3 linked regions of the Homo sapiens genome follow. The protein of the gene in region 1 interacts with the protein of each later gene in a pairwise test. Each region holds a gene or a part of one and is shown in the gene's direction. Other genes may lie near its edges.

Evidence for each region. Proteins that work in one complex are often made in the same cells at the same time.
Region 2: the proteins of ASPG (region 1) and MYOZ3 interact in binary tests that used the Homo sapiens proteins (3 or more experiments, as listed by UniProt).
Region 3: the proteins of ASPG (region 1) and SHC3 interact in binary tests that used the Homo sapiens proteins (3 or more experiments, as listed by UniProt).

Annotation. Positions count from the first base shown.
Region 1 is NC_000014.9:104,102,698-104,109,716, forward strand, and holds part of ASPG (60 kDa lysophospholipase), read left to right. Parts: intron 1-865; coding exon 866-978; intron 979-1,606; coding exon 1,607-1,789; intron 1,790-1,924; coding exon 1,925-2,038; intron 2,039-2,630; coding exon 2,631-2,753; intron 2,754-4,101; coding exon 4,102-4,197; intron 4,198-4,484; coding exon 4,485-4,648; intron 4,649-5,700; coding exon of another isoform or gene 5,701-5,797; intron 5,798-6,004; coding exon of another isoform or gene 6,005-6,145; intron 6,146-6,531; coding exon 6,532-6,618; intron 6,619-7,019. UniProt on the Homo sapiens protein: Exhibits lysophospholipase, transacylase, PAF acetylhydrolase and asparaginase activities.
Region 2 is NC_000005.10:150,657,404-150,664,269, forward strand, and holds the start of MYOZ3 (myozenin-3), read left to right. Parts: upstream 1-3,847; 5' UTR 3,848-4,024; intron 4,025-5,537; 5' UTR 5,538-5,538; coding exon 5,539-5,599; intron 5,600-6,866. UniProt on the Homo sapiens protein: Myozenins may serve as intracellular binding proteins involved in linking Z line proteins such as alpha-actinin, gamma-filamin, TCAP/telethonin, LDB3/ZASP and localizing calcineurin signaling to the sarcomere.
Region 3 is NC_000009.12:89,175,800-89,183,557, reverse strand, and holds the start of SHC3 (SHC-transforming protein 3), read left to right. Parts: upstream 1-4,739; 5' UTR 4,740-5,097; coding exon 5,098-5,571; intron 5,572-7,758. UniProt on the Homo sapiens protein: Signaling adapter that couples activated growth factor receptors to signaling pathway in neurons. Involved in the signal transduction pathways of neurotrophin-activated Trk receptors in cortical neurons.

The DNA of each region.
Region 1 (7,019 bases):
TGTGGCATCAGCCTCCCACCCCCACCCACATGGAGCGGGAAAGTCGGCAGAACCCTGGGGGCTCAATTGCTGCCAGAGTGGCGGCCTTCAGCTCGAGGACAAGCATGTCCTCTGGGGAGCCCCTCTGCATGGACGGGTTCAAGGGGCACTGACCCCAAATAGCCATCCCTCCCCACTTCACCTGGGGCCTGCACCTCCACCATCACCCACCCTGGGTGTGGGGAGGGGGTGATGGGCACACATTAGGATTTTGGGGTGAACTGGATGGAGGCCTTCTCTCCCCAGAGGTGAGGGGTCCGAAAGTCCATTTGTTCGCTCATTCAACCACTGACCCGGTGGGCAGTGGGCACAGTGGGTGCCTGGCAAGGGGCAGAGGAGGCTGGCTGGTTCGACGATGCTGCCCCATGCCTGTAACCCAGCGCAGTGACTGCTGGTGGCTCCCCAGCTGGGCATGCCTGCCCTCCTCGCCTCTGCGCTCGCCTGACGCCCCCATGCGGCCTGCAAGACACAGCCGGGCCTCCATCTCTGCAGGACCCTCCTGCCCCTCGCCTGGCCAGCGGAGTTTCCCTGGGCTTCACCCTTGAGACTGTGTTGCCCATTGCTCGGCCATCGGTCTCTCGCTGGCCAACGAGTGCCTCCTCCCACAGCCCCGTGCACGCTGCGGAGCCTGGCACAGGCCGGACTGCGCGGAAGCCCGGGAGGATTTGCCTGCGGGAGAGGAGGCAGGGCGAGGGGGCTGAGCCGCGAAGGCTCAGGGCTCTGAAAACAAGGGAGGAGGCGGCCTGTGCAGAGGGCCAGGCACTGGGCTGGGGTCTCGGCTGGCAGGAGGCCTGAAGGCACCACACAGGCCCTTCCCTGTCCTCAGTCAACAGGGAGCTGGTGCGGAAGGTGGACGGGAAGGCTGGGCTGGTGGTGCACAGCAGCATGGAGCAGGACGTGGGCCTGCTGCGCCTCTACCCTGGGATCCCTGCCGCCCTGGTAGGGACCGCCCCGGCCATCCTGCCCCTGCAGCCCTGAGCCCCAGCCCTCTGCAGCTCCCACGGCCCTCAGGCTCCCTGGGGCCCTCACCAGCCAGTGCAGACCCCGCGTGGACCTGAGATGTCTGCAGTGTGGCCCCACCAGCCCCAGGCCCTGTCCCCTGTCCTCCGTCGTGGTGCTTTCCAGCCTCTCGGGGAGTGGGCAGGGTTGGGGCGCGGCTCACAGCCAGAACGGGGTCCTCCATGCTTTTCTAGAGGCAGCGTCCTCCCGCAGATTCCAGCTGGCTGGGAGCCGCCCCTGCTGTGCTGGACAAGGGTGTTTGCTCTGGGGCCTCTGATGGCCTTCTTGGCTCCTCTCCCACCTCTCTGAAGTGTTTCCACGGCGTTCTGCCACACAAAGCCTTCGTCCCTACAGACAGGGCGACCCTTTGGGAGAATGTGGGGGGAGCAGCCCCCTCCAGGTGCCAGCAGCCATGCACGTCTGCCAGGAGCCCCACTGTCCCGGGAGCAGAGCAGGCACCAGCTGCCCCTGGCTTGGGGTCCCTCTCCTTGGGAGGGCATGGGGCGAGTCTCAGTGGTGCTGAGGGCAGAGACCCTCACCATCCAGCCCCCACCCCACCGCCCCACAGGTTCGGGCCTTCTTGCAGCCTCCCCTGAAGGGCGTGGTCATGGAGACCTTCGGTTCAGGGAACGGACCCACCAAGCCCGACCTGCTGCAGGAGCTGCGGGTGGCCACCGAGCGCGGCCTGGTCATCGTCAACTGTACCCACTGCCTCCAGGGGGCTGTGACCACAGACTATGCAGCTGGCATGGTAGTGCCGGGAGATCAGGGCCTAGCGGGGAAGGGGACAGCCTGAGGGCCTGGCAGAGGTGGGCTCTGACCCACCCCTCATGGGCTGGGGGCCGTGGTGAGTCGCCCTTCCTGCCCACACGCCCCCTCCTCACAGGCCATGGCGGGAGCCGGCGTCATCTCAGGCTTCGACATGACATCGGAGGCCGCCCTGGCCAAGCTATCGTATGTGCTGGGCCAGCCAGGGCTGAGCCTGGATGTCAGGAAGGAGGTGCGGGCGCTCTCGGGCTGTGGGCAACCCTCGGTGTGCACAAGCATGTCAGTTGGCTCCCAGGGGCATGTCTGGGGCGATGCCGGAAGAGCCTGGGGGCCGGTCCAGGGTGTGTCCTGTTTGGGAAGGGGAGGGATGTGGCTCCCTATAGTGGGGAAGGGCAGCTCTGGGCCCAGGCTCCCCACAGCCCTCACTGGACTCCCAGCCCAGGCTCCGCCTGTCCTTGTGCCTTCTCAGACTGCATGGAGACCTGAGGCTCCCCTAACTGTCGCCAGGAAATCCTCTCCTGCTCTCCACTCTTCCTCGAGGGTGGGGTTCAGACACAGCTGGCCCCAGACCCTTGGGTTGCCAGCCTCTGGGGCTGGACGGAGGCTTTTGGGGCCCCTGGAGACCCTGAGCTGGTAGGGCCAGGGAGTGGGGCTGGCCTTGGGAGGGGACCCAGCCCGCTCTGGCCCGAGGGATGAAGCACACACGGCCGAGGCTCAGGCCAAGGGCAACCCCTGACTGTGCCCGGGTAGCCCGACCCTCCAGGCTGTCCTGGGCTGCCCATCCAGCCCTGGCAGAGCCACTTCACCTCTGTTCTCTCCACCAGCTGCTGACCAAGGACCTTCGGGGGGAGATGACGCCACCCTCGGTGGAAGAGCGCCGGCCCTCACTGCAGGGCAACACGCTGGGCGGTGGGGTCTCCTGGCTCCTCAGTCTGAGCGGCAGCCAGGTAATGGCGTGGGACACGGGCCTGAGTGGCAGCTGGGGACTGTGCACCCTCTTGGTCACCCTGGGATGCACCAGGCAGGCACGAGCCCCTGTAGCCATCACTCGAGCCCAAACAGTTAGGCACACCCGGGTTCTGGGGCCCAGGAGGAGGGTTTGGGGTCTGCAGCAAGGAAGGTTTGCAGGGTCTATAAGGCAGGAGGCAGGAAGGGCCAGGCGGTGGGCACACAGCAGGGAGGCCTTCTGACTGGCGGCGCTGCCTTAGTGCGGGGCTGCCTCGGGAGCTGCCTGTCCAGAAGAAGGGCGGGTGAGTGGGGGCGGTGCTTGCTCTGGGCTCTCCCAGGCTCTGAGCACCAGGGGTTCCAGGTGAGGAACCCGGAGGTGAGGGCCAGCCTTTGAGCACGTCCCCTGCACAACTGAGGTGCCCAGACCTAGGAAGGGGGGCTTTCGAGGCCTGGGGTCTGCAGGGGGATGGGGCCTCCCTGGACCCCGCAACATGCCCCCTTGGCTGCTGGGCCAAACATCCAGGCCTGACATGGGGCCTGGCAGGCCAGACAGCCTTGCTCCCCACTGTGTGGGGTCCTGCCCCGGCCTCAGTGCCTCGGTTTCCCCCTACAGGGATGGACCTGTCTTGTGAGCCATGTGCTGGAACTGCCACTTGCTGGGGCGGGTGATGGGCAGATGGAAAGGACTGGCGTGCATGGCCTGTTATTAGGGTGGCTGCATAGGGCCTGAATGCTGTAGGGAGGCAGGCCAGAGGCAGCAGCCTTGTCACCAGGCCACGTTGTACCCGCTGGGTGTGGTGGCACCTGTGGGGCCTCTGCCAGGACCGCTGGGTGTGGTGGCCCCTGTGGGGCCTCTGCCAGGACCGCGGCCTTTTGGCGTCTTGGGGAGCTCCTGGTGCCCGGTGCTGGGGGCAGGTGGCTCTTCTGGGAAGGTGCAGCCGTGGGAACAGGGCCTTCCTTCCAGGGGAGGGGTCTGGCTCTGCTTCCCACGCTCTCCTTATGTGGGTGACCATTCCGTCCCGACGGCGGTGGGAGCAGACGGGGGAGTCTGGGAGGGTGGGTAGCAGGTACTGGCCACACACCCGTTGGGGACAGGGCTGGATGGTGGTCTCGTGGCCTGGCCTTAGCTCCAGGGGAAGGGGTCCTAGGTGGGCCTGGATGGGGTGGGGTGGTGAGGCTCAACCCCAGGCCTTCCGATGTGGCAGCTCAGGTTCCTTCTCACCCACGCCCTGGGATCTGCGGGCCCTTGTGTGGGGGCTGGCAGGGGTCATACAGCACCGGGGACTGCCAGTTCCACCAGATGCCAAAGGGAGGCGTGGGTCCCAGGGTGCCGCCTTCCCCACCTAGGAGGCAGATGCCCTGCGGAATGCCCTGGTGCCCAGCCTGGCCTGTGCTGCTGCCCACGCCGGTGACGTGGAGGCGCTGCAGGCGCTTGTGGAGCTGGTGAGCCTCCCCCACCCTGGGGGCCCAGCCCCAGCCACGCCTGGCCTGGGGGCTCTGAACCCTGTAGGCAGGACGGCCTTTCATCCACCCACTGACCACACTAAGCCCTTGTCAGCCAGACTGGGCAGCAGGACTGTCCTGCCAGCTTGTCAGGTCTCACTGAGGCTTTGAGGGTGGGCGCAGGGGCTGTGCTGGGCCCTACCCTCAGAGGGACCCCACCCTCCCCATGGCCTACCTGGCCCCGCCTGGGTCTCCCTCAGGGGTCGCATGTCCTTGTGTTACTCCAGGGCAGTGACCTGGGCCTGGTGGACTTTAACGGCCAAACCCCACTGCACGCGGCCGCCCGGGGAGGCCACACAGAGGCAGTCACCATGCTGCTGCAGAGAGGTGTGGACGTGAACACCCGGGACACGGATGGCTTCAGCCCGCTGCTGCTGGCCGTGCGGGGCAGGTAATGGAGCTAGGGCTGCACAGAGCTGCCTTGGACAGGTGGGCGCAGAGAGGCTGTGGGCTCCTGCACTCAAACAGCCTCCCGGGGCTGGGCTGGGAGAGGTGGAGGACACCTGCTTCCTAAAGGCTGCCCCCGCAGCCCGGGGCCCAGTAAGACCCCGGCCCAGAGTTCCTAGAAAACAAAAATGTTGTGGACAAAGCTGGGAGGACACGGTGCATCTCTGTGCACCTGTGGGTATGGGGGGCTGGGGTGGAGGTGGGGCAGAAGGTCCTGGCCCAGCAGCCAGACGCGGTCAATAAAAAGCAGGCTACGTGGCAGCAGATCTGGGGCTGTGACAGGCAACTCGGGCCCTGGAGGACAGGCCCAGCCTGTGCGTGTGGGGGTCCCCTGCCCCACCAAGCAAGCCCTGGCTGGTGTCTCTTCCCAAAGTCCAGAGCAGCAGCAGAGACGGAGTGTGTGCCTGTGCCCCTGCGTGGGGGGCGGGGCCAGCACTGGTGGGATCTGCGTCCCGTCTCCCCTTCCTACTCTTTATTGCCCCAGCCTGGGAAGGCCAACGACCTGTCTGCTGGTGCCGCTGCCCGGACCCATGGGCTGCTCAGAGATCCCAGGGCCCCTGGGGATTCCTCCCTGTGGGTGGGAGGACTTGGCCTGCAGGACCCTGGGTTCTTTTCGGGGAGGGAGTGCTCAGGAGTCCCATGGAGAGAAGGCCGGGGTGTCTGAGCCTGGGGTCATGTGACCCTGACGTGTTCAGTTGTGGGTTCCCCTCCCCAGCGGTGAAGCGGTGAGCCCTGGGGTGGGGTGTGGCACCTTTTGTGAAGTGGGTGACTGGGGTAGAAGGTTCTTTCCAGCCTCCTGTGATCATTGACAGGGTGCTCAAAAGAATAGGAGAGAACAGGGTGGTGGACAGGAGGGGGCGGGGCTGTGAGGGTCCCCCCGAGCAGGGCTGGGGTGATCCGGACTGGAGCTTCTAGACTGGGCGTCCTTGGGTGTGGGTGGGTGGCGCGGAGACGAGCTCACACAGTCCCGCCCCCTCGTCTCCTCCTGACTCACAGGACCAGGCTCACAGCACGCCCCCAACCGGTCTCCCAGCCTCGCTCCGCTGCCAGGCTCCCTGAGGCCGCCTGCCTGGCCCTGCTGTGCCTGAGTGGGGTATGGGGAGGCCACTGCCTCATACCTATTCCCAGGCTCCCTAAATGGGGTGATGGGGGGATCTGTGGTGCTTTGCAGGGGTGGGGGCACGGCCAGCGATTATGGCACAGTCTTTAGGTCACCCTGTACAATGGGCTGTGTGGCCTCCGGCCTCGGGCCTTTGTGCCTCTGCTCCTCCTTGCTAGAGCCCCGACCCCACCCCCACAGACTCCACTGTCCGGGTGCCCTGCCCCCACTCCTACCCAAGGGCAGTCGGCCGGATTGATTCAGTGTCCCCTGCGCCTGGCTGAGGAGGTCACCACGGGGTGTGATCAGCGTTTGGGTGTGCAGTGGGGCCGGTCAGCTCATGTAAGGCTGTCCTCTGAAATGGGCTGTCCCCTTGGAATGGGTTGGGGAGACTGCCCTGGGAGGAGCTATTCTGCTAGCACCAACTAATGCCCTCCCCTGGGTGCTGGGTGCGGGGCTGCCACAGAGTTGACCCCACCCCTTGCAGACCTCAGCTGCCCTAAGAAGGAGTACTGGACAAATGGAGGTGGTGGGATCCCGGGATGATGTCACATGGGCCTAGGCAGAGGATGGGGGGATGGGCCCTTGTCTGAGGCTAGGGCTGTGGGGTCTTGGGCCGGCCGGTCCCCGTCCCTGTGCACAGGACATGAGCTCTGCTGGCTCCTGAGTGAGGTGCAGCGGGGCTGGGCTGGCCAGGGCAGAAGGTCAGCATGCTCATTCTCACACAGGCATCCGGGTGTCATTGGGTTGCTGCGGGAAGCCGGGGCCTCCCTGTCCACCCAGGAGCTGGAGGAAGCAGGGACGGAGCTGTGCAGGTGAGTGCAGCTAGAGCACCTGCTCTTCCAGGGATGTGGGGGACACAGCTTGGGGAAGCGAAGCCAGACCTGCTGGGAGGGACAAGTGAGTCAGGGTGTGGGGGCTTTCAGAGGCGAGGCCCGCTGACCTCAGTGTGCACCAACCTGGCTGATGGGAAGAGGTGTCTACCCTGGACCATGTCATGGGGCAGGGGAAGGAGTTGTTCTCAGCTGAGCGAACAGTCCAGCAAGGGTGTCTCTGTGTGCACATGTGTGCATGTGTGTATGCATGTGTGTGGGTGCATGTGTGTGTGTGTGGTGGGCTTGAGGAGGGGTATGGGAATTGGTTGTCGGGTGTGAGAGGGGCTGGGGTGTGGACTGGGGGGTGGCTGGGGCTGCATTTGGGGAGGTTGGGGCAGGTG
Region 2 (6,866 bases), on another chromosome or scaffold:
ACACTCTCTCTTTCTCTCTCTCTCTCTCTCACACACACACACACACACACACACACACACACACACACACACACTAGTTAGTGCCTTGGATGAGGCGGGGCAGTGTGTATATGGACCCCTGGACTTGCTACCTTCAGGGTTCCATACTCGTCCCTCCCCTCCTGGCTCTGCTGTCTGGAGTCTGGCAAGCGGGGTGTGTTCAGAAGGTCCTAGGCCTGTGTCGCATGTCCAGGCACTGGCCTGACCATCCGGCTCCCTGGCACCAAGTCCCAGGCAGGAGCAGCTGTTTTCCATCCCTTCCCAGACAAGCTCTATTTTTATCACAATGACCTTTAGAGAGGTCTCCCAGGCCAGCTCAAGGTGTCCCACTATCCCCTCTGGAGGGAAGAGGCAGGAAAATTCTCCCCGGGTCCCTGTCATGCTACTTTCTCCATCCCAGTTCAGACTGTCCAGGACATCTTATCTGCAGCCATAAGAGAATTATAAGGCAGTGATTTCCCTTAGGCCCAGGACTTGGGCCTCCAGCTCATCTGTTCCTTCTGGGCCCATTCATGGCAGGTTCTGGGCTCAAAGCTGAACTGGGGAGAGAAGAGATACAGAGCTACCATGTGACTTTACCTGATTGCCCTCAGTTTGGGGTTGCTTATTGGGAAAGAGAGAGACAAAGAGTTACTTGTTACGGGAAATATGAAAAGCATGGCCAGGATGCATAGAGGAGATTCTAGCAGGGGACAGGATTGGCTCAGATGACCCCTGAGGGCTCTTCCAGTCTTGAAATGCATTCCATGATATTAGGAAGTCGGGGGTGGGTGGTGGTGGTGGGCTAGTTGGGCTTGAATTTAGGGGCCGATGAGCTTGGGTACGTGAGCAGGGTGTTAAGTTAGGGTCTGCCTGTATTTCTGGTCCCCTTGGAAATGTCCCCTTCTTCAGTGTCAGACCTCAGTCCCAGTGTCCATATCGTGCCCAGAAAAGTAGACATTATCCTGCCCCATCCCTTCCCCAGTGCACTCTGACCTAGCTAGTGCCTGGTGCCCAGTGACCTGGGGGAGCCTGGCTGCAGGCCCTCACTGGTTCCCTAAACCTTGGTGGCTGTGATTCAGGTCCCCAGGGGGGACTCAGGGAGGAATATGGCTGAGTTCTGTAGTTTCCAGAGTTGGCTGGTAGAGCCTTCTAGAGGTTCAGAATATTAGCTTCAGGATCAGCTGGGGGTATGGAATTGGCTGAGGATCAAACGTATGTAGGTGAAAGGATACCAGGATGTTGCTAAAGGTGAGGGACAGTTTGGGTTTGGGACTTACCGGGGTGATGTTAGATCTGGAACCCCCAAGTGAGGCTGGAGGGAGTTAAGGTCAGTATGGAAGATAGGGTTGGGACAGGGTGCTTTGGAATGAAAGAGTGACCTTAGAGGGCTCCTTGGGCCTCAGGAATGCTCCTGCTGCTGTGAAGATGAGAAGGTGCTCTTACTCAGTTAATGATGAGTGACTATATTTACCAAAGCCCCTACCTGCTGCTGGGTCCCTTGTAGCACAGGAGACTGGGGCTAAGGGCCCCTCCCAGGGAAGGGACACCATCAGGCCTCTGGCTGAGGCAGTAGCATAGAGGATCCATTTCTACCTGCATTTCCCAGAGGACTAGCAGGAGGCAGCCTTGAGAAACCGGCAGTTCCCAAGCCAGCGCCTGGCTGTTCTCTCATTGTCACTGCCCTCTCCCCAACCTCTCCTCTAACCCACTAGAGATTGCCTGTGTCCTGCCTCTTGCCTCTTGTAGAATGCAGCTCTGGCCCTCAATAAATGCTTCCTGCATTCTTCTGCCTCCTGTGTCATTTTCAGCTGTGTCTGATGTCCTTCCCTTCTCCCCAAGCATGGAGCAGTCCATGGGACTCTGGGTGGCTGGGAATATTTGAGACATATGGGATGGGAGCTTGGGAAGAAGCAGCCATGGGGAGAGATGGGAACAACGGACAACTTGAGGCCATAGAAGTACCTGGACTGCAGTCCTGGTCCTGTCATGGACGAGCGGGGTGACCCTGGGTGAGCCCACTCCTTCTCTAGGCCTCAGCTTCCCCATCCGTATAATGGGGAGAGTGGGTCTAGGTAATGTCTCAGGGTGGTATTGTCCAGGCCCTGACCACAGAGCACTATCACCAGAGTGGGCAGGGCCAAGCTGGGTCAGGGCTCTGTGCTCTGAGGCTGTTTCCTCATGGCAGGTGGGGGTGCCAGGGCAGGAAAGGCGCCACTGTAAGAGGTCCCGTCTGAGCCAGGCAGCCCCAGTGAGGCAAGGACTCGGGCCATGAGGCATCCTCTCCTGGCAGGAGTGTCCTTTGGCCAGAGAAGGGGATTGTGATCCTGCTCCCAGGTGAGGCTAAGCTTGCCCTGGGAACACACCTCACTCTTCCTCTCTAGAAGCTCAGGCCCACCGAGGGCCAGGAAGCTAAGGTCAGGGTGGTGGACAGCAGAATCTAGGCTTCTGATTTGAGAGGTGTCAGAAATACACCCCAGGATAGTCTGCCAGCACACAGACACCGGTGGTCCCCACCCTGCACCCAGCCCATCCTTGCTAGGCCCACCCTTCCCCAGGAGTGTGTGCCTTGGACCCAATCTTTATCTTCGGCTGGGGCCTCACTGCAGCACAGTGTCCCATTGCCTACTGGTGATCTCATCCCAGTCCCCCGACACCTCAAAGTTCATCCAAAACTGACCTCAGTGTCTGCCCCCACCCCTCCTGCTCCTCCCCTTCCAGTCACCCAAGCATGAAACAGGGGAGTGGGACTCCCTTTCCTCACCTTCCACATCCAGTTCCTCACCAAGACCCAAGGGTTCTTCAAATAACCCTCAACTCCCTCTCCTCTCCATCTCCTTGTCACTGCCCTGATCCAGCCACCCCTGGTGACAGTCAGGTCCTCCTGCCTCCAGTCTGGCCCCCTCCAACCCATTTCCCACATGGCAGCAAAGATATCTTTGGAAAATGCCAATCCGATCACTCCATTTCACCACTTTAATCTTGTCAGCAACCCTTTATAAACACAGTTTCCTTTTGAAAGCCTGCTGGGATCTGGCCGCTGCCCCCACTGTCTGGGCTAATCTCTCAGCACTGCCCCCAGCTCCGGCTCTACTTGCCAACCCCCTACCCATCTTTGTAGGTGACATGTCCACTGCCTGCCATGCCCCTTCTCTGCCCAGTGAACTCCCACTCATCCTTCAAGGCCCAACTCCAGTGTGTCCTCCTCTGGGAAGCCTTCTCACCCCCCACCCCAGGCTGAGCTGGTAACTCCCTCCCCTGGGCTCTCCCAGAGCCTTCCCCAAAGCTTGTTTACCCGTCTGAATCTGACCTGGCTGAGCTCCTTGAAGACAGAGCCCTGCCTTATTTATTTTCAGTCCTTAGAGAGAGGCTCAGGGAATGTGAGAAGGTAGAGGGAGGGAGGGAGGGAGGGAGGAGGGGAGAAAAGAAGGCAGGCAGGAAGGAGGCAGAAGAAGAAAGGCAGGAGAGAAGAAAGGAAGGAAGAAAAGGATAAGTCAAGCAAAGATATTGAGGAGCAATTCATTCATCCATCTATCTATCCATCCATTCCTTCCTTCGACAAATATCTGCTGAGTTCCTATCAAGCACCATTCTTGGCACTAAGGATATAACAGTTAACAAGCGGAAGCTACCAGCAGCTGACCCTCAACATTTCCAGGTGACTTTGGTGTGTGCATATGTGAGTGTGTGTGTACACGTGGGTGCAAGCCCTCTGTCTGCACAGGCCTGTTGCCAGGGCACCTGTCTTCCCTAGGGTCTGGTGCTTTTAGCCTCTGGCTCCAGCTCCTATTGCAGCCCGAAATAAGGCTGTGACCCATGGCAAGGCAGGAATGATTCTCATCAGCTGAAGCCAGAGCTGGCTGCAGGGGACACCCTGCTCGCTGCCTACTGACTGCTGACCGCTGACTGCCTACAGGGACGCCACGCAACTCTCAGCTTCCCGACAGAGGTGTTAATCTTGAGGGTCTAAGATTCCCTCCTGCCTATTGTGGTCCCATCCTCTCAGGTACCAGCATCCTAGGGGAGCTTGGGGAACTCAGGGGAGTGGGCAGAGGAGGTGAGCCAATCCCCAGAGCTCCTTCCCCCGGAGAGGAAGGGCCCTGCAGTGGATCTAGGGAGTTTGGGGCCCCATGCAAGCCTCGATCCTGGTTTGGGAGGAGAGGAACTCTAAGCTCTAGGTTACCCTGCATTAAATGGGGAGGGTGTGGCTAGGATTAAAGGTGGGGAATAGGTAATGGCTCTGCTCAGGACTTTGGGATTTTTAGGCAGTAGAGGGAAGCAGCTTCTCTGTAAAATGAGAGACCCTTCCCAGCATCTGTGAATTTCTGTAAAGGGAGTGTTTATCAAGAAACAGATCTGTGGACTGTGGAATCCTAAACGGTTGTGATCGAGGCATTCTCAATCATCCCATGACCCTCACCCCAAATGCATGTAGACACACTCATGTTTACGTATAGTTTTAGGGGGTTTGTGAACACCCTAAAGCCCATCCATGGATCTCTGTGATTTAGCCTAACCCCCTACTGTTACAGATGGGGGAACTGAGGTGCAGAGCTGGAAAGCTACTTGTTCGCAGTTACAGAGAAAGCCAGGGACACCCACTAGACTCCAGTTGCACAATGCAGTGCCCACTGACTCCCAGGGCCCCTTGTCGGTGTTGGGGATACAGATGAAGGCAGATTGTTTTCTAAAGGAAGGAGTATAGGAAAACCTGGAGGCAAAGGAGAAGGGTACCCAGGTGGGTGGTCAGTCGAGGAGCTCAAGGGCTCTGCCTCTTCTCCAGAGGGCAAGTTAAGGTACCTGGGCAAGTTAAGGGCTCTGGACCTCATTTTATTTGCAAATCTCTTCCAAGATTCTTTGAAAGTGCCATGAGATACAAATAGGGGGATGGAACAGGAGGAAGAGAAGGGACGAGGGAGAAGAGAACACCACGGAAGTTAGCCCAGTAGCGGGGAGATGGGGAGGACGGGGGATGGTTCTCTCTGCTTGGTTGGACCAGCCTGTGCCCTCAAGCGTCAGGGCCAAGTGCCAAGGATGAAAGGGGCTCACCAGCCTTGCAGACCCCAGTGTAACCCCAACCTAGTCCATCCTCCCCCTTCCCCTAACTTAAACCTCCAACTTCTTTCAGCCTTGGACTAGGACTCTCCTGGGTCAACCGATGACAGTAGTGCCTGAGACCTTTGCCTGCCCCACCCGGATGCCCCTGGCACCTACTCTCCCTCTGATCAGGATGCCAGAGCTGGGAAAAGGCCCTAGAAACCACCCCTGAAGAGACAGTGCTTCCCTAGCAACATGAAAATAGATTCGTGCAAACTTGAGCACCTCCCTCTCGTTCCCTGGGCCTCAGTCTCCTCTGCACGGAGACCCTGAAGTCCCTTCCAGCTCAGACATCCCTTGCTTGTGATTTGGGGCTGGCCTAAAGCTGTTCAGGACTGGGGCAGGGTGAACCAGAGACTGGAAGGAGGTCTGGGGAGAAATGGAGGCAGCCTGGTCCATTTATGGGGGTCTCTCCTCCACAGGATGATCCCCAAGGAGCAGAAGGGGCCAGTGATGGCTGCCATGGGGGACCTCACTGAACCAGGTAAGGTGGTTCTAGCCTCATGCCTTCCTCAGACTCCATCATTTCCTTGCTCCCAGGCTGCACTCACTCTGGCCTGCTGGCCCCAGGCCTGGGCAGACAGGTGTGAGCTCCAGGCCAGCTCTGAGGGAGTGCCTGTAGAATTTGCTGCCTAGGCTGGGAAGCTTCCCTGAGGCACTGGGAGGGGTCTTGCCCATCTGTCCACAGACCCAGGAGCTGAGGCTGAGTGTCCCAGGCTGGGCCTTGGCTCTAAAATGACCCTGGCCCTGGCTTCATCTAAGGCCTCACCTCAGCCCCAAATTAAGCTCTGAAGACTCTGGTCCCAACTCCAGCCCTACCTGTGGCTGCAAGCTCTGCACACACTTGCCTTTGCCTATTACTCCTGTGGGTCTCACCGAGGCCTCTGGGTGGCCCAGGATGGCTGGGCCCCATGGCTAAGAGAGGGGAGTGGAGAGAGTGGAGTAGGGTGGGAAGACAGGGGAGTCGAGAGAGTGGAGCAGGGTGGGAAGAGCAGGCTGCCCATTTGAATACAAAACTTTCTACTTAAAGCTGATTCATCAAATGAGTAAATCATTTTTATCATTTCATTAAAAAAGTTTAAATTCATTTTTATCAATTTTAGAAGACCTCTTGAGGAACTCTTGATACAATTTTGGAATCTGTTTATTTGGTCTACTTTAGAGGATTTCAGGTATTTTAAAAATTAATTTAGGGGCTGGACACAGAGGCTGATGCCTTTAATCCCAGCACTTTGGGAGGCTGAGGTGGAAGAATTGCTTGAGCCCAGGAGTTTGAGACCAGCCGGGGCAACATGGTGAGACTCCATCTCTACAAAAAAAAAAAATTAGCCAGGCATGGTGGCACATGCCTGTGGTCCCAGCTACTCAGGAGGCTGAGGCAAGAGGATCGTTTGAGCCTAGGAGTTGGAGGCTATAGTGAGCTACGGTTGTGCCACTGCACTCCAGCCTGGGTGACAGAGGGAGACTCTGTCTCTAAAAAAAAAAAAAAAGAAAAAGAAAAAAATTAATTCAACTAAGTCAGAGTTCTCAAGCTTTATTGTGAATCATAATGATTTGATGTTGGTTAAGCATACAGAGTCCCAGCATCTACTCCTGAGGATTCTGACTCAGGGGACCTAAGTTAGGACTTGTGCATTTGCCTTCAGCGTGCTAAGGAGTCAGTCATATTTCATGACTTCATATGTGGCATCCTTTTAACCTATTTTGTGTGCTCTTGCCTCCTTTTGTTGATGTCCAGTTTCTTCCCCTAC
Region 3 (7,758 bases), on another chromosome or scaffold:
CAGCCCTTGCCTTTCCCCATGACCTGCCTGTCATGGGGATGCTCCTCATCCTCATGGCTAACATTCAGCTCAACCCAATGGTCCAAGTTAGAAACGTGGGCTTTGCTTGGCATTCCTTTCTTTGGGAGAGGCTGGGCTGCAGGGTGCCATGGGCACACAGCCTTCACATCAACTTTTTCTGGGGGTGCTCAGCTGTGGGGTGCCACCTGCTGGAGGCTGTTCCTCCCTGGGCAGCCCACACTAAAGAGGTGAATGTGGGAGAGAGTGAGGGAGTGCGTGAGAGTGAATGAGGAGCCCTGCAGGCCAGGGGATACTCTCTGTGGATGGCACTCTTTCTCCAGAACTCTTGGAAGGACGAGGTGTGTGGGGCCTGGGTCACAGCCCACTTCTGCCTCTGCTCCCTCCTGCAGCCTCCCCTGCTTTCTGTGGAGCTTGATCTCTAATAAGCATCTTGCATTCCAAACTCTGTCTTAGCTTCTAGCTGCAGACAGCCTACCCAGCCTCGCTCTCTCTTACACTTCCTCATCACAGAGACAGATCCTTTACCTTCCCAGCTATCTTGAATCCATCCCTCTCTTTCCAGCTCCACTGCTCTTGCTTTCATTCAAGCCCTTGTTCTTTTTAACTTGTCCTGTTGTCTCCTACCTCCTCTCAACTTCCCAGAGCCACCCCAAGTCACTATCAAAGTGGTCTCCATAAAAGGCAAACCTGACTATGTGACCCTCTCTCAAGCCCCTTGTGTCCATTTGTTCTTGCATTGCTAAGAAGGAATGCCAGAGGGTAATTTATAAAGAAAAGAGGTTTAATTGGCTCATGGTTCTGCAGACTGTACAGGAAGTATGGTGTTGGCATCTGCTTGGCTTCTGGTGAGGGCCTTAATTGTGGCAGGAGGTGAAGGCGGAGCAGGAGTGTCACATGGCATGAGCAGAAGCAATAAAGAGAGTGAGAGGGGAGGCGCCACATTTATTTTATTTTATTTTATTTTATTTTATTTTATTTTATTTTATTTTATTTTATTTTATTTTATTTTATTTTTATTGTTTTTGAGACAAAGTCTTGCTCTTTTCGCCCAGTCTGGAATGCGATGGTGCGATCTCGGCTCACTGCAAACTCCTCGTCCCGGGTTCAAGCGATTCTCCTGCCTCAGCCCCCCGAGTAGCTGTGATTACAGGGGCCTGCCACCATGCCCGGCTAGTTTTGGTATTTTTAGTAGAGATGGGGTTTCACCTGTTGGCCAGGCTGGTCTCGAACTCCCGACCTCAGGTGATCCATCACCTCGGCCTCCCAAAGTGCTGGGATTACAGGCATGAGCCACCACACCAGGCCGCCATATTCTTTTATCCAAGCAAATCTCATGTAAGCTCAGAGCAAGAACTCACTTATCACCAAGGGAATGGTGCTAAGCTATTCATGAGGGATCCACCCCCATGATTCAGTCACCTCCCACCAGGCCCCACCTCCAACACTGAGGGTCACATTTCAACATGAGATTTGGAGGGGACACACATCCAAACCTCATCACCCCTCTAAGCCTTTATGAGTGCCCAGCCTCCTGACCTCCTCACCAACCCAACCAACCTACCAGGGATTCTGGGAGACTCTGGACTGCTCAGGCCTGGAGCCCTTGCCCACACAGTTTCCTCCTGTGAAGTCACCTGGAGGATGCCTCCACTGGGGTCAGGGGTCACCTCCGCATCCTCAGGACAAGCTCACTCCTTTGGTCAAGTTTTTGTATCTCACACATATTACAAAATTCACATAGTCTTAACTAGGTTATAACATTAATTTCAGATCTTCTGCCTTCCAGAAGGCAAAACCACTTTCCCCAGGGCCCAGCTCATGGCACCTTCTCAGAAATTTGTGGATTCTCCCTCAGAGCCTCCAGAGGAACCAGCTCGGCCCACACCCATGCTGGATCCCAGCATGACCCATTTGGACTTCTTACCTACAAACTGGAAGATAATAAATTGTGTTATTCTAAGCCATTGATTTTGTGGTCATTTGTTACGGCAGCCATAGAAAGCAAATACGTGTTTAAGCATTGATTTAAAAAAGAAAAACCACAACATACTGGAAAGGCTCTCATTGTAAATTGCCCCAGACTGCCTGGCTTTGGTGAATCTCAAGGCTGACTTTAAAATGGAGTTTTTTTTTCCTGCTTCCTTCCATGGCTATCAAGCAAGCCAGCAACAGAAAATTTCATTTACATTTAGCATTTTCTGTCCCAGTGGTCTCCTCTCTCATCTGTCTCTATGTTGATCAAGAAGATATGTGGGCTTTCTGGTACAGGGTCTAAAATAAACATGAACAGCTCCCCAGAAAGGGCAAAGGGTTTTCTCATGAGTAGGGTGTGTGAGCTTCTGTGTGGGCTGCACAGCCTCCTTTTGATGCTGAGAGGCCTTCGGGTTTTTCTTTTTCCATCTTTCTGCTACGTTCCAAAATGTTGATACTATTTTCCAGGTAAGTGAGGTTTTACCGTACTACTGTGTTCTTGGAATATTAATTTCTGTCTTTGATTATATATCTTTTCATATATAGTAAATTTATGTTGCTATTTATATTTTAAAATGACCAATTTCCCTCCACTGGCCTCATAATAAAAGAAATAAAAGTCTCCTGTTGGCTAAACGTTAAGTACATAGCTTTGGATTTTTTTTCCTCCCTGGAGCCTCAGAACGTGTACAGGTGTCCTACATGCCTTTTACAAAAAAAGAATCAAGGGCTAGGAACCTAGGTTTTGAACGTGCATTCAATGTACATTCATAATAAAAGCTGAACGACTGGCACATTCATGGTTGCTCCTTGATGTAAATGAACGGCTGAATGAAAGTTTAGGGGCACAGCTCACCTCCAAGAGAGACCCTCTTCACACTTAGACCTGACCAAGGGATCTTGAATTCCCTTGTAAAACTAGCTTTTCCTCTCCATAGCAGCTGGCCTCTTCCTCCCGGTATCTTTGTAATCCGGCTGGGTGTTTTTTTTTCTTTTTCTTTTTTTTTTTCCCACACTGCCGTTGGATAAAAGATCCCGCCTTTGATTGAAATGGAATCTTCCACTATTGAGCAAGCCTTTGTTGAATGAGTCATCGGGGCGGCCGCTCATTGGCTGAGGCCGCTGGAGCCCAGGGGATTGCCTGGCACCGGCTGCAAGGCCCTGCTTCATTCACAGAAACGCTGGCTCGCTCGCTAGCCTTTTCATTCACACAAACAGCATTTCATTCACATTTTGCGGTTTTTGTCTGCATCTAATGAAGATCTCGCTTTGGGAATGATAGGGCTGTTTCGCTACAGATCTGGGGAGGACTCTGATAACCATCAAAATCATCTATGGGGTGTGCAATTGCTGTTGCTATGCAAGCTAGGGAAAGGGAACAAATGAGTGCCGTGTAGCTGTTCTGCTAGGGCTGCGGCACAGGAGGCGAGCCGTGGGGACGCGTTTCCTGTACCGGGGACGCCGCGGCTCCTCTGCGCTCTTGCGTCCTAGGGGTTGGCCTCACCCGCTCGCCCGCCATGAGTGGCGCTCATTAAACTCTGCTCCATAGAGCAGGGTTCAAGACTCAGGACCTCACGTGCCCCACATGTTCGGTCATGGGAGTGAGAGGACTCAGGGTGACCTGAGAGTGTGCTAGAGCTGAATTTATTCGCTTGCTCAGAAGTTGCGGGAAAACTTTGATAGTGAGTGTTTCACTGTGGAGCAGGTGATCCTAATGCATGAGGAAGCCTGGCAGAGCCCACTGAGGTCAAGAGTCAGAGGGCTTCAGTCTCGGGCAGACCTCTGGGGACAGCGAAAGCCTTGCTCTCCTAACTGAGAGGAAGAAGGCCTGTGCATTTTACTTGCAAGCCCGAGCCTGACTCCTGAAAAGAAGGCATATTTTCCTCCTTGTGGATTTGATGTGCAATAAGAACAGCTGCATTTTTTCCTTCCTGACTGCAGGGTTGCAAGCAGCAACTGAAGGAACATTGAAATGTATTTGTAGCATTTCTTAGGCGTTTTTCCAGAGCTTAAACACATTCAGTAGGATTAAAGCTTCAAATGCAGCCCCTTTTTTGGAATGGATTTCTGGAGCCTGTTGCCACTCGTGAAAGAAGCACTCTTCTTTTTTGGAAGTGGATATTCAACTTAACCCTGGCTGAGAAAGACTGCTGTAAATGAGCAGGGAAGACCCCTTGATTGGCACTGTGCAGAAGTTCATATGCAGATTTTTTTTTTTTTTTTTTTTTGAGGAACTGCATTGCCACAAAGACACTTGTCATCGCTGCTCTGTTAATTTGAAAAGAAAAAGCAAAACCCAGGAAATTGGTATTTTACAGTCACCTGGGGGTGAATATCCTTTTTGTTTTTTTCTATTTAAAAATTCCTGCTGCCTTCCAAGTCAAGATTCATCAGGATTCGCTGAAGATCTGATTCTTAAAAAGCCTTCGTCACATTTTAACGCATCGCTGTTAGACACTTTTACAGGCTCACACAGATGGGCTGAGCAGGGACGAGCAAAACCTAACAGAATAATGGGTTTCAGAAAGTTCATTTGACGATTTGAAGGAACTGGATTGGATTTACCTTTGGCACAAATGCAGATTGCGGGGGATGGGAAGGTGAAAAATCAAAGGTTGGAAGGAAATATCTGGGAAGGTAGAAAAAGGAAATTTGAGAATTGATTGGCTATAGTGTGCTGTCAGCGGGTGGATGTCGTTTTTTTCTTCTTTTTTTCCTTTTTTTTCTTCTGCTACAGGAAGTGATTTGCAGTGCTCACCGAGCCTTTGTTGAGAAGGGTCTCCTCTCAGAGTGAGTCATGCTTTTGCTGTGAGCAGCCCCAAGCAGCTGGGCGCTCCATCAGAGGCAACTATGACTTTTGCAAAGCAAACGTGCAACCCCAAGCAGCGGTCTCCCGGGCCGGGGCTGCGCGGCCGCCGCTGTGCTGGCTTTTAACGGTGGGAGGGCACCATCCTCTTGCTCTGCTCTCGTTCTCCAGAAGGCTGTCCCGGGGCCCCCACTCTCCGTCCCGCTCCGGGGACAGTGGCTCGCCTGCTATGCGCGGCAGCCCGCGCCGGGGCCGGCACCAGCAGCGCCCGGGCGGATGCAGCGAGCCCACGGAGGGGCATGCTTCCACGCACCAAGTATAACCGCTTCAGGAATGACTCGGTGACATCGGTCGATGACCTTCTCCACAGCCTGTCGGTGAGCGGCGGCGGAGGCAAGGTTTCGGCGGCGCGCGCGACCCCGGCGGCGGCTCCCTACTTGGTGTCCGGCGAGGCGCTGCGCAAGGCGCCCGACGATGGGCCCGGCAGCCTGGGCCACCTGCTCCACAAGGTGTCCCACCTGAAACTCTCCAGCTCGGGCCTCCGCGGCCTGTCGTCGGCCGCCCGGGAGCGGGCGGGCGCGCGGCTCTCGGGCAGCTGCAGCGCGCCCAGCCTGGCCGCCCCGGACGGCAGTGCGCCCTCGGCGCCCCGCGCCCCGGCCATGAGCGCCGCCAGGAAGGGCCGGCCCGGCGACGAGCCGCTGCCCAGGCCCCCTCGGGGGGCGCCGCACGCCAGCGACCAGGTGCTGGGGCCCGGAGTCACCTACGTGGTCAAGGTGGGTGCGGGCGCGGGCCGCCCTGGGGGCTGGGGGTTCTGGGGCCAGTTCGGGGCAGACTCCTTCATTCCCTGAAGCCCGGGGTGCGGGGCGCTCCCGCGACTGTCACGTTAGAGGCAAGCAAATGCGCACTCCTTAGCAATCAGCTCGCTTGACAGCGGTGAGGAGGGAACTACAAATGCGCTTTTCCCGCATCCATTGGGAAAAGGTTTACCACTCGGGTGGCCCGCTCCGTCCCGGTTTTCCCTAGGCTCCACTTTTTTGGCACGCCTTTGCCACCTGGCTTACCAGATGTCTGACCAGTGTCATGGGCGCCCAACCCTGGGCAGCGGGGGTCCGGCCTGCCTAGTATCTAGGAAACGCGCTGGGGAGAGCTGGGCAGCCCCCGGGAGGAGAGATGCACGGAGTGGCGGCCCTACTCCTGCTGTGTCTTCCCCGGCGGGAGGGTGGGTATCTTGTTGCCCCCCGCAGCAAGAATTCCCAGCTCCTTGCAGAGCAGGCCAAATGCTGTGCTGCTTTCTCTTCGACGGGCTTTACTTTCTCACCCAGTCCAGGTTTTCTTGGGGTTTGTCTTTCATTCCCTAAGGAAAGGTTCTGGTTTACAGCAGCGGAATGAGAATTCTGGGACTATTTTTCTGGTGACTGTAGTCTTCCATTTAAATGTGCTAAAAGGGAACTAGGGCGCTGCGCTTGGAGCCACAGGCTGGAAAGGAGTTTTTTCCTCCAACACAAAGATGATAAAATCACGATGTAGTCAATAAAATTCCACCCTTATGCAAGCATGTTATGATATTTAAGGAAAAATGCTCAGCACAGTTCAAGTAATCTGCCACGCGGTTATTTCCTTCTGCCGGTTGGGCAGCTCAGAGCTTTAACAGCCTCCACAGCCGAGCAGACAGGGGTTAAGGATGGAAGTTGCAGTATTTCAATCCTGCCACTCCAAGGCATGGCTTTGTATTGAGAAAGAAATGAGACACAAACTCTATCCCCACCGTGTCCTCAATAACACTGAGAAACCCCCAGGATGTCTGTTCCGTAAATATTGGCTGCAGATTCCAGTGTAAAAATTAAATAGAACACATCCTCAGGTAAAATGCAGTGTCTGGTAATTTCGGAACCAAAATATTAACAGAAATACTTAACTTTGTGGATTGCCTTTAACTATATAAAAAGTACTTACAGATGAATGTGGCCATTGTTGTTAAAAGAGGGCTTCTTCACCTTTTCAGTCTGCTTTTTAATTTAACCTTCAAACTATGGATTATTATATTTTACCAAAGGGGTATAGATGAGCATAATATATGCATATTTGGTTGAGTTTATTTTAAGAGGTACTGAATATTCTTCTTGTTTTGCTTATTTAAATTATATAACCAGGGGCCAAAACAAAAAGAAAAAAACAAACCAAACCAAAAATCCCTGACAGCTTTGAGGTTGTGTTTACTTCTGGGGTGTTAGCATAATTGCTGTTTTAAAAAGCCTACATTTCAAATAGACAAATAGACCTTGGCAAAGCTTTTTCTACCTGTCATATTAAACAGAGTAGTTTTCAAATTGAGGGAGAATTCTCAAACTTATGGCTTTAAATTTTTGTTTTAATCACTTTGCTTAGAACTTTGCTTTTGCTTTTTAAAGAAGGAAGGCCAGCATCAAGTTTGAAAGGTCAAATGTGGCAAAATAATGATGAATGTACGAAAATAAGACGGCTCTGCGTCGACAATCTGTTGCTGTAAGGTTTGTGACTTACTGGCAGCATCAGCAGTAGTATTCATAGTCAAAGGGCTGGATCTGCACAGAGCTTGTCTGTGTCTTGGGGTTACTTTGTGTTGCCTCAAATTTAAGGGGTTGCAGTGATGGGTTGAGGGGTGCATGGCATGACTAATTAGGGCTCTGTACCATCCATGTTTTGGTTCCTTGTTCATTAGCAGCCATGAATGGTGCTGTGATGTGAACATAAACGCAGGCATTGTCCTCTGCTGTCCTGGAGAAGTTTGAAATCACGCAGAAAGAAAACCAGATGCTAAAGTGTGTGTGCATGTTTGATTCAAATTATCACATGGCCCTCTGTTGGCGCACATGTGCAAATTCCCGCATTGCCCATGTTGAGTTTAAAACCTCGAACTTATTTTATTGAAAAATTGTTAAACTGAAAACAATCTTAATTTGGCGTTATTTAGAATTTTTGAA